3 linked regions of the Homo sapiens genome follow. The protein of the gene in region 3 purifies or fractionates together with the protein of the main gene of each other region. This does not show direct contact. Each region holds a gene or a part of one and is shown on either strand. Other genes may lie near its edges.

What was found.
Region 1: the proteins of FMOD (region 3) and UGT8 purify together in Homo sapiens (affinity purification with mass spectrometry; one large-scale study listed by BioGRID and IntAct). This does not show direct contact.
Region 2: the proteins of FMOD (region 3) and PLXNA3 purify together in Homo sapiens (affinity purification with mass spectrometry; one large-scale study listed by BioGRID and IntAct). This does not show direct contact.

Annotation. Positions count from the first base shown.
Region 1 is NC_000004.12:114,622,695-114,626,342, forward strand, and holds part of UGT8 (2-hydroxyacylsphingosine 1-beta-galactosyltransferase precursor), read left to right. Parts: exon of another isoform or gene 1-184; 5' UTR 185-186; coding exon 187-1,008; intron 1,009-3,648. UniProt on the Homo sapiens protein: Catalyzes the transfer of galactose to ceramide, a key enzymatic step in the biosynthesis of galactocerebrosides, which are abundant sphingolipids of the myelin membrane of the central nervous system and peripheral nervous system.
Region 2 is NC_000023.11:154,464,633-154,468,280, forward strand, and holds part of PLXNA3 (plexin-A3 precursor), read left to right. Parts: intron 1-121; coding exon 122-236; intron 237-385; coding exon 386-586; intron 587-791; coding exon 792-888; intron 889-1,024; coding exon 1,025-1,215; intron 1,216-1,302; coding exon 1,303-1,448; intron 1,449-1,517; coding exon 1,518-1,638; intron 1,639-1,743; coding exon 1,744-1,880; intron 1,881-1,990; coding exon 1,991-2,161; intron 2,162-2,424; coding exon 2,425-2,518; intron 2,519-2,599; coding exon 2,600-2,839; intron 2,840-2,912; coding exon 2,913-3,056; intron 3,057-3,134; coding exon 3,135-3,369; intron 3,370-3,449; coding exon 3,450-3,592; intron 3,593-3,648. UniProt on the Homo sapiens protein: Coreceptor for SEMA3A and SEMA3F. Necessary for signaling by class 3 semaphorins and subsequent remodeling of the cytoskeleton. Plays a role in axon guidance in the developing nervous system.
Region 3 is NC_000001.11:203,348,952-203,352,699, reverse strand, and holds the start of FMOD (fibromodulin precursor), read left to right. Parts: upstream 1-1,577; 5' UTR 1,578-1,667; intron 1,668-3,443; exon of another isoform or gene 3,444-3,454; intron 3,455-3,748. UniProt on the Homo sapiens protein: Affects the rate of fibrils formation. May have a primary role in collagen fibrillogenesis.

The sequences.
Region 1 (3,648 bases), on a different chromosome or scaffold from region 3:
TGAGCATTTTTTCATGTGTTTTTTGGCTGCATAAATGTCTTCTTTTGAGAAGTGTCTGTTCATGATTTTTTTTTTAGACAAAGTATTAGATCAGATATTTTTGGGGAAAAATGCTTTGTGATTGCTTGTTTTGAATGGTGAGCATTGTATTTTGTTTTAAGTTGTTTTCTGGTTGTTATTACAGCTATGAAGTCTTACACTCCATATTTCATTCTCCTGTGGAGTGCTGTTGGGATAGCGAAGGCTGCCAAAATCATCATCGTGCCGCCAATTATGTTTGAAAGCCATATGTACATTTTCAAGACGCTAGCCTCAGCCTTGCACGAGAGAGGCCACCATACAGTGTTCCTCCTCTCTGAAGGCAGAGACATCGCCCCATCTAATCATTACAGCCTCCAGCGCTACCCAGGGATCTTTAACAGTACCACCTCAGATGCTTTCCTACAGTCCAAGATGCGGAATATTTTCTCTGGGAGATTGACAGCAATCGAACTGTTTGACATACTGGATCACTATACTAAGAACTGTGACCTGATGGTTGGCAACCATGCCCTGATCCAGGGTCTGAAGAAAGAAAAATTTGACCTGCTGCTGGTGGACCCTAATGATATGTGTGGATTTGTGATAGCTCATCTTTTAGGGGTTAAATATGCTGTATTTTCAACTGGCCTTTGGTATCCTGCTGAAGTGGGTGCTCCTGCTCCATTAGCATACGTCCCAGAGTTTAACTCACTCCTCACAGACCGCATGAACTTGCTGCAAAGGATGAAAAATACCGGTGTTTACCTCATTTCCAGATTAGGGGTCAGCTTTCTGGTTCTTCCCAAATATGAAAGGATAATGCAGAAGTACAACCTGCTGCCAGAGAAGTCCATGTATGATTTGGTTCATGGGTCCAGCCTGTGGATGCTGTGTACTGACGTAGCACTGGAATTCCCAAGACCCACTCTGCCTAATGTTGTTTATGTAGGAGGAATCCTAACCAAACCAGCCAGCCCACTACCAGAAGTAAGGTTTGCCGAATTCCTTGGTAATTCTTTTTTAATGTAAAAGTCAATTTTGATTTTTGGAAGAGATATGATTTGTTATTTATATATATTGTATATATACAGTACACTAAAAGGTGATTAGGACATGGGGCCTCCAAAGTCCCTTTATGTGGGTCCACCACTTCCCTGGGAAACATTCCTGCTTTGAATGAGCATTTCTGTAATACTGAAAAGACCACTATGCCATATGGTCAATAGACTGCCTGGGAAGTAGTTTTCTGATTAAGTAATAGTTATAGTATGTGAGGAGAATATAGTTAAATGGTTAATTTTAATGAGTATAAGTGATTTTATCTTTAATTACACACAGAATCCCCTCTGTTCTGCCCCAAATAGCACAATTAACAGGTATATATGTTTAGCTTCAGGTCAGTGAACAGAGGTTCTTCTCTGGGAGGTTATTACCACTAGTTTATGTCCAATAATGAAAGTGAGGTGGTAACTTCCATCAAAGTAGGGAGTTGGTTAATTTAAGCTAGTAAGTAAATGTAATGGTTTTAAGGAAAGCATGCTCTATTGCAATTTCATTTCAATGATGGAATCAATGGCACTTTAAGAAACTCTGTTCTCTATGTGAAACTTAAATTCTTTTTATTGATTGAGCCAACAGTAAATCCCTTGGTATTCTGTTCACCATCCTTGTTTTTTATTAGGTATCCCACATTAGCAGAAGCCATACACATACCTATTGTTGTAGTGAGTTTTCTAACCTCAGATTGAATCTCTCAATTTAACCTCAACATCAGATCCCATTTACTAGGAAGTGTAGGGCTTGTTGCAGGACTTTATTCAAGTTACTTTTAATCCTACCTCTGGAAATAGCCACTCAAAACAATTTTGCTAAATTGTTGATTTCTAGTTCTGGTACTACATATTAAAAATTCTATCAGGGCCTTGATGAAGAGTAAATCCAGATTTTCTCGTATAGATGAGGACAATCACATGGCTGAATTTTGTCGTGAGGCAATAAGGTGATTAGAAATATACGACCTGTAGGCTTTTCTAATATGGCCATTAGAGTTATAATTAATAAATAATATATCGATATATTTCATATAACATGGAAACAGAAATGGCCTGTACACCCACAGCATTTCAAATATATACAGCCACTGGAGGCCATGAGGGCACACTTGTTCTCTCTGACGTCAACTGTAAAGGATAGGGATTAATCTCAGCTTATCTTAGCCATTCTTGAATTTATCCAAGCTCATTTTGAATCCTCAGATCTTCTCTGGCAGAGTCACCTTCCTAAAGGTAGCTAAAATCAGATTTTAGAAGTAGCTTCTAAAAGATTTGGTAATCAAGGTGTGTCTTTACCTTAACTGAGTCATTTAAAATGTTACACAAATCATCCTTGTTCTCTCTAGGTCATCATCTTTTCCGAGCTAGAACACTCCCCTTCTGCCAGCTCCCTTTGGTTTTCATCTGGGTGATGTCTCTCTTCTTCAGTCACTTGATTGAAGAAGAAGTATATGATGAAAAGGAGCTGGACGCGGTGTCCCATGCCTGTAATCCCAGCACTTTGGGAGGCCAAGGCAGGAGGATCACTTGAGTCCAGGAGTTCGAGACCAGCCTGGACAACATAGTGAAACCTTGTCTCTACAAAAAATAAAAATTAGCTGGGTATGGTGATGCATGTCTATAGTCCCAGCTACTCAGGAGGCTGAGGTGGGAGGATCACTTGAGTTCAGGAGGTCGAGGCCGCAGTGAGCTGAGATCACACCACTACACTCCAGCCTAGGTGTCAGAGTGAGACCCTGTCTAAAAAAAAAAAAAAAAAAAAAAAAAGGAATGTCCTGTCCTGATTGCCTTTTCTTTCCTTCCAGTTCCTGCTGTATATTTGTCTTGAGTTGCAGCAACTTGAATGACACAGTATAAGTGTAGGAAAATATTTTATGTTTTATTTTCAATACTCTACCTTTCAAAAAGATGCATAGCATGTGATAATTTTTTTTCTACCATCCAAGCATTTTTTTCTGTCATGGATTCCTCTGCACACAGATGTCCTTACTAGTGTCACTATTTTGTTTTACATGAAAAACATCTTTTTAGTGGTTTTTGGTGCTCGACATAAGGTATTACTCAAAATATCCTTTAATTTGCCATAATTTCTCATTTGACACTGGCTTGACTTTCTTTGTGGAGTTCTTTTTCCTCTGGGCTATTTGTAGTGGTTCTTTTGAAATGCGTTTTTTGTTTACAAAGTTTGCTTTGTGCCAGTTAGTTTGGTTGCATGCACAGACATGGCATGTGTGCATGTGTTATATATAGTATGTGGACATAGATAAGTATATTATTATTATTGGAAGTCTATTAGATTATCATTGTGAAGGGCTGTTTTCATTTCAGAATGTTATTTATAGTTTTTGAGCAGGGAGTATTTTGAAGAATGATGTGCAGTACTCTTTCAGGTATTCCTTATTCTGGTGTGGTTTTATATGCTTATGAACACATGTTCCCACTGAGATTTTTCTAGTAGATTTATTTGAGATAATAAACTGTACCTTTTCATTCTAAAAGTTAATGAGTTTCTCAAATGCCTGTATTATTTACAGGGCATTGTTGTGACAGTAACACAGGAAGGCCCAGAAAGTAG
Region 2 (3,648 bases), on a different chromosome or scaffold from region 3:
CCACATCTCTCTGTCCCCTGATATGGCTGCCTTCTTCCTTCAGTTCCCGATGTGTCCTATTGGGGAGCAGTGAGGGGCAGTGCAGCCTCCTCTGTTATTTCTGAAGCCACTTCCCCCCCAGGTGCATGTCCTGTGTTGGCAGCCCTTACCCCTGCCACTGGTGTAAGTACCGCCACACGTGTACCAGCCGCCCCCACGAGTGCTCCTTCCAGGAGGGCAGGGTCCACAGCCCTGAGGTGAGGCGGGCGCCGCATGTGAGGGGCTGGGCTCTGTGGTGCGGGCGGGGCCACCGGCTTCTATGCGTTCTCGGTTTCTTTGAGCCTTCTCCAGGTTGGGCCTGGAGAAGGGTGGCCCTGTGTGCAGCTGACAGGTGCTTTCCCCGCAGGGCTGCCCTGAGATCCTGCCCAGTGGGGACCTCCTGATCCCCGTTGGGGTCATGCAGCCTCTTACCTTGCGGGCTAAGAACCTACCTCAGCCGCAGTCGGGCCAGAAGAACTATGAGTGCGTGGTGCGGGTGCAGGGGCGGCAGCAGCGGGTGCCTGCCGTGCGCTTCAACAGCAGCAGTGTGCAGTGCCAGAACGCCTCGGTGAGGTCCCACCCGCTGCCTCCCTTCGGGGTCTGGGCTGTGGCGTGGTGTGGATCGTTCTTGTCTATGCCCAGCTCTCTGGCAGGGAACTGTCTGAGTCTCCTGCTAGGGATTCCTGTACCTGGAGGAGGGGGGCAGCTGGCAAAAATCTTGGGTAGGGGTTCTGCACATCTTATCTGGGGTCCCATGGGTTCCTTTCCTCCAGTACTCCTATGAAGGTGATGAGCATGGTGACACCGAGCTGGACTTTTCCGTGGTCTGGGATGGAGACTTCCCCATAGACAAGCCTCCCAGCTTCCGAGGTGAAGGCATGGGCCAGGGAGCTTCCCTCCTAAGGCAATTGGCACTGCTGGGGTCGGGTCTGGGGGCCCTAGTGCTCCCCACTTTCCACTTTTCTGCCACTGCCTGCTCCGTCAGCAGTGCCTTCTGTGCCTGCAGCCCTCCTGTACAAGTGCTGGGCGCAGCGGCCCAGCTGTGGCCTCTGCCTCAAGGCTGATCCCCGCTTCAACTGTGGCTGGTGCATCTCAGAGCACAGGTGCCAGCTGCGGACCCACTGCCCGGCCCCGAAGACCAACTGGATGCACCTGAGCCAGAAGGGCACCCGGTGCAGCCACCCCCGCATCACGCAGGTCAGCCTCCCTCACCGCCCCTGCCCACTGCCAACAGGGCCCCTGGGAGTCTGAGCCAACTCTCTCACTGCCCATCCTGCTCCACAGATCCACCCTCTCGTGGGGCCCAAGGAAGGAGGCACCCGGGTCACCATCGTGGGTGAGAACCTGGGCCTCTTGTCCCGAGAGGTGGGCCTGCGGGTGGCTGGCGTGCGTTGCAACTCCATTCCGGCCGAGTACATCAGTGCTGAGAGGTGAGTGCGGCTCTGTGGGTGCCCGGGCCGTATGTGGCCTGGCCGGCCCTGACGCTCTCTGAGCCCTAGGATCGTGTGTGAGATGGAGGAGTCGCTGGTGCCCAGCCCGCCGCCGGGGCCCGTGGAGCTGTGTGTGGGTGACTGTTCAGCCGACTTCCGCACGCAGTCGGAGCAGGTCTACAGCTTTGTGGTGCGTGGCTGCCGGCCCTACCCCTTCCTGTCCCTTCTCTCTCCCGCAAGGGGCGTGTGGAGCAGCCCGGCCCGGCTCCTCCCCTCAGGGCAGCTTCTCCCGCAGACCCCAACGTTTGACCAAGTGAGTCCCAGCCGTGGCCCGGCGTCCGGGGGCACACGGCTTACCATCTCAGGCAGCTCTCTGGATGCTGGCAGCAGGGTCACAGTGACTGTGAGGGACAGCGAGTGCCAGTTTGTAAGGTGGGCCGGGGCCCTGCCAGCTTTGGGTTGGGCATCGTGTGGGGGGCCGTGGGGACGGGTGGCTGAGGGCCCTGGGCCACCCGCTCCAAGCACCCTGCTTGCCAATGTAGGAGAGATGCCAAGGCGATCGTGTGCATCTCACCTCTCTCCACCCTGGGCCCCAGCCAGGCCCCCATCACACTTGCCATTGACCGGGCTAACATCTCCAGCCCCGGGCTCATCTACACCTACACTCAGGACCCCACCGTCACCCGCCTTGAGCCCACCTGGAGCATCATCAAGTAAGACCCTGGGGGACTGGGGAGCCTGGCAGTGTCCAGAGGGCTCAGGGACTGGGTGGTCTCTGAGCTCCGGTGGGGCCCCTCCTGGAGCCTAGGCCCTCATTGGTGGAGGGGGTGGAGCTGTCCTGGCTGCACAGTACCCGGCACCCACTAGGCGATCCAGGGTCAGGGAAGGCCTGGGCTGCCATGGCAGCCTTGATCGCTCTCCAGGGCTGGGTGGGTGCACTGGAGGAGGGAGCCTGAGGCCCCTGCCCTGTCCCTAGTGGAAGCACTGCCATCACTGTGAGTGGGACCCACCTGCTGACGGTCCAGGAGCCCCGGGTCCGTGCCAAGTACCGCGGCATTGAGACCACCAATGTGAGTACCAGCTGCCCCGCCCCACCCCGACCCTGCAGCCCATGGCTTCACGTGCCTGGCTGTCCACCTTTGTCCCCACAGACATGCCAAGTGATCAACGACACTGCCATGCTGTGTAAGGCCCCCGGCATCTTTCTTGGGCGGCCCCAGCCTCGGGCGCAAGGCGAGCACCCTGATGAGTTTGGCTTCCTGCTGGACCACGTGCAAACGGCCCGCTCCCTCAACCGCTCCTCCTTTACCTACTACCCTGATCCCAGCTTTGAGCCGCTGGGGCCCTCTGGCGTGCTGGACGTCAAACCGGGCTCCCACGTGGTGCTGAAGGTGCGGGCGGGGTGGGGGCGGGGAGGGGCGGGAAAGTGGAGAGTCCTGGGCTGAAGTTGTCCTCCACCCCCAGGGCAAGAACCTGATTCCCGCTGCAGCCGGCAGCTCCCGCCTCAACTACACTGTGCTGATAGGAGGCCAGCCGTGTTCGCTCACTGTCTCGGACACACAACTCCTGTGCGACTCACCCAGCCAGACTGGCCGGCAGCCTGTCATGGTAGGTGGGGATGGGGAGACCCCCTGGGCAGCCCAGGGTGGGCGTGGTGGTCAGCTCACCTCAGGCCTGTCCCCACAGGTGCTGGTGGGTGGCCTGGAGTTCTGGCTGGGCACCCTGCACATCTCGGCAGAGCGGGCGCTGACCCTACCGGCCATGATGGGGCTGGCGGCGGGGGGTGGGCTCCTGCTGCTGGCCATCACAGCCGTGCTGGTGGCCTACAAGCGCAAGACTCAGGACGCGGACCGTACCCTCAAGCGTCTGCAGCTGCAGATGGACAACCTGGAGTCCCGTGTGGCCCTGGAGTGCAAGGAAGGTGCCTGAGGCGGGGCGGGATGTGGTGTGGAAGCTGGGGACCTCCCTCCTGCCCACTCATTCCCTCTCTCCACCCCCCAGCTTTTGCAGAGCTGCAGACGGACATCAATGAGCTGACTAACCACATGGACGAGGTGCAGATCCCCTTCCTGGACTACCGGACTTACGCCGTGCGCGTGCTCTTCCCGGGCATCGAGGCCCACCCGGTGCTCAAGGAGCTGGATGTGAGCCTCTGCCTGGCCTGCCCCCCACCATTCCCTTCAGGGCCGCCCCCACCCTC
Region 3 (3,748 bases):
ACCACCACCTACCCAGTTGCTCAAACTAAAATTCTAGGAATCATCCTTGACTTTTCCTAACTCTGCAAGACTTGTCAGTTCTCTGTCTAAAATATAAGATCTTCTCTTCCATTGCACCAGTCCAATCTGCCATTACCTCTCCTTGAGGCTGGGTTGGAGCCTCCCTGCTTCCACCCTGGCCTCCCCTTCTCCATACAGCAGCCCCTCCTACATGCTTTTAAAATGTAAATTAGATCCCATGCAAATCAGATCCCATGGCTTCTCCTGCTTGAAACATGTTTTTTTTTTTAAACATTTAGAATAGGCCGGACCGGATGACGCACGCCTGTAATCCCAGCACTTTGGGGCACTGAGGTGGGTGGATCACCTGTGTTTAGGAGTTCAAGACCAGCCTGACCAATATGATGAAACCCTGTCTCTACTAAAAATACAAAAAATTAGCTGGGCGTGGTGGCGTGTGCCTGTAGTCCCAGCTACCCAGGAGGCTGAGGCAGGAGAACGGCTTGAACCTGGGAGGCGGAGGTTGCAGAAAGCAGAGATTGTGCCACTGCACTCCAGCCTGGGCGACACAGCGAGACTCCTTTTCGATCTCCTGACCTCATGATCCTCCTGCCTCGGCCTCCCAAAGTGCTGGGATTACAGGCATGAGCCACCACGCCCAGCTGAGACTCCTTCTCAAACAAACAAACAACAACAACAACAACAAAAACATTTAGAATAAAAACCAAATCACTTCCATCGCCCAAAAGTCCTTTCATGGTACAGCTCCTGCCCAGCTTTCTGATCTTGTCTTTCCCTGGCTGAGGAATTCTATGGCTGTGAAATGGGTAGGACACAGTGAACCTCAGCTATGTGCCAGGTCAGGAGCCTCCCACACATCACCTGATACAGTCCTTGCTACAACCCAGCAAGGTAAGTGTTATTAACTCTGAATTTGTTGTGAGCATTAAGTGGAAGTGGATGATGCTAGTGCATAAGCAGTGATCAGCAAATGCTGGAGTCCCTGCCTTTCCTTTTGTTCCAGTGGTGGAGGTGGGCAGGACCTGTAGCCTAGAAAAGTCTACACTGCTTAGGGATAGAACTGGAACCAGAGCCGGCTGTCCCTTGTCATTCATGCTCCCTTATCCACTAGCCTGATGACCTGTCTATAGGGGGAGCTGAGAAGCGCGAGTTCTCGCTCTCTGGAGGGACATGTGGGTTGCTGAAGGAGTTAAGATGTCTCTTACCAAACCCTGGCCCTCCCCATCCCTGCATCTGCCTTTGTGGCTTTAATGAGAAATCCAGGCGCTTCATAAGAGACTGTACAAATAACTTCTAGGGCGCCACTAACTCATTCAGCAGAAAGGGACCCAGGGCTGCCAATGTTTCAGGGAAGATAAGTGAGTGGAAAAAAGGTGGTTTTTATAGCGTCAGGCGGACCGAAGGATTTGCGTGGTTGAGCGTGAACTCCGCCCCTGCAGCAGAGCTGAAAAAAACCAGGATCCGGGTTCCTCAGCCCCTTTTCACAATATTTGATTAGGAATTTGGGGCGGGACCCTGGTCTGGCACAGGCACGCACACTCTCAGTAGACTCTTTCACTCCTCTCTCTCTTCCTCTCTCACACGTTCTCCAACCCAAGGAGGCCAGACAGAGGGACGTGGTCACTCTCTGAAAAGTTCAACTTGAGGTAAGTATAGTCGTTTTACTTCGGGTTTGTCCCTAGCAGTTCCTTAAAAGAAATAAAGGAAAAGTGGTAGGGGATAGGGGAGATGGGGAGGCAGGGAGGGTTCATTCCTCCTTCTCCACATCTGGGCCATGACCCCAGGGATGCTGGAGAGTGGCAGAGAGGGTGTATAAGGGAGGGGTTCCAGCCCTGTACCTTTCTCTTACAGTTCCTTTATGGGTGCTGAGGGGACCTCCAATTCTCAGGCATGAAAAAGTGAAGGACCCTCTGTCTAGGGAAGCTTCTTCCCTGCTACTCATAAATCCCATCATGCTGGGAGTGTGGGCATTTTGAAGGGTATTCCAAGACCTGGATGTCCCTGCAATCTCTCTTATAGAGGGGTTTGGTACATAAATGCTATTATGGGAGAGGGGGAAACTTTTGTGTAGAATGTGTGTGTGTGTGTGTGTGTGTGTGTGTTTGGAGTGGAAAGGAGAGAATAAAAAGAAGCATTGAGAACTGGCCATGTCCAGGGAGCTGTGGATTGGGGTGGGGATGCAATCCAGGTGAGGGGATGGCCTCTGGCTTGACCTTCTCCACTGATAGGAGGGAGAGATCTTTCTCTAGAGTGGAGAAATGAAAGAACAGCAGTAGCTCCTGAGTAAACTTCCCCCAGCTGATAGTGTGGCAGTCCTGGAAACTTTCGACCTTACAGAAACTCTGAGCACAGGAGGGCCTCTAGCATTATGGGAAACAGTGTAAGACTATGCAACCCTGAAGCAACATTGCTAAGAGATGGGATGGGGTAAGGAGAGGCATAAGCTCCCCATCAAACCCTTTCAGCACCCATGGCTCTAAGAAGAGGCTGAAGTGGGCAGGGTGCACAGCCCCTAGAAAGCTGAGTCTGAAGGGGAAGGTGGCTCTTGTCTGCCAAGGTGCCCAGTCTGAAAGAAGGAGAAACGGAGACAGAGGCTCACTGTGCCAGCCCTCCAGACAGCCACCTTGGTCCTGCAACAGCCCAGGGCTGTGCATGGAAAAATGCTCTGTTGGCAGTGGGCCGCTCCATTCGTCTTCTCTCCTGGCCAGAGCCAGGAACCAGCCAGCTTGCCCAGGCAGTGGGCAGTTGGGTCAGCTTCTCCAAAACACTGTGGCTCTTTGTCTGAGGCCTGAGGCTGCCTGTGGATGAGCCAGGGTGCCTGCTCCTCTGCAACCTAGGAACTGATGGGATGAAGTGGGCCCAAGGAAACTGTTTTGAGGGGACAGAGAGGTCTGGGATGGATGGTGGTCAGGAGGTAACTCTGTTGAGTGTCATAGTTGGGGTCTTTCCCATCAGTTCACTGGATCTGATGATGTTGGCTTTTATACTCCTTTCTTTCTTCTGTTTACAGTTGCCAACCCCAGTAGGCCCAACAGCAATGTGAGGGCTGTATGTGACTCTTCCAGGCCAAGAAAGATTCTAAGGTTTCTCTGTCCAAGGGTGACACTCAGGAAGATGCCCACTGCTCACAGGAGTATGTCATGCATTGGCTATAGGTAACCAGGGTAGGGTACCCAGGCCACCCCTAGTCTCTTACCTTCCATACCTTTAGTTTCCCTCTCAGATGACATCAGACCCACATTTCCTCTTCAGTCTGCCCTGTTCCTATCTCATTAGCACAACAGGTTCAAAAGCAACAGGTTTCCAGCAATGTGGGGACCTAGACACAGAGCCTGGTCATCTAGGTGTCATCGCTGGGAGCAGGTAGCTTGGGAAAGGAGAGGAGAATGTCAGGGTCCTACCTCAAGCTGCTTTCCCTTGAGCATACACAAGAGTTTCCAATCTCTAGCTATTCTTTTGGTGTCCCTCATTCATTTCTCTTGGCCCCACATGGCTCTTGCATGATGCCCATGGTGGAGCATGAGGAGTGCTAACACCTTACTAGGCACCATGGAAGAGAGAAGCAGATTAACTCAGACTTCACACACTGAGTACCTGCTTTAGAAGGCAAGTGCCACACCCAGTGCCAGGGTCCTCAGTCTGGAAAGGATTTGTAACTGCTGCATGAAGACCCTGTCCCAGCCAAGTTGCATGTGTAGCCACAAACTGCTAACCAGTGAGTTTCCTC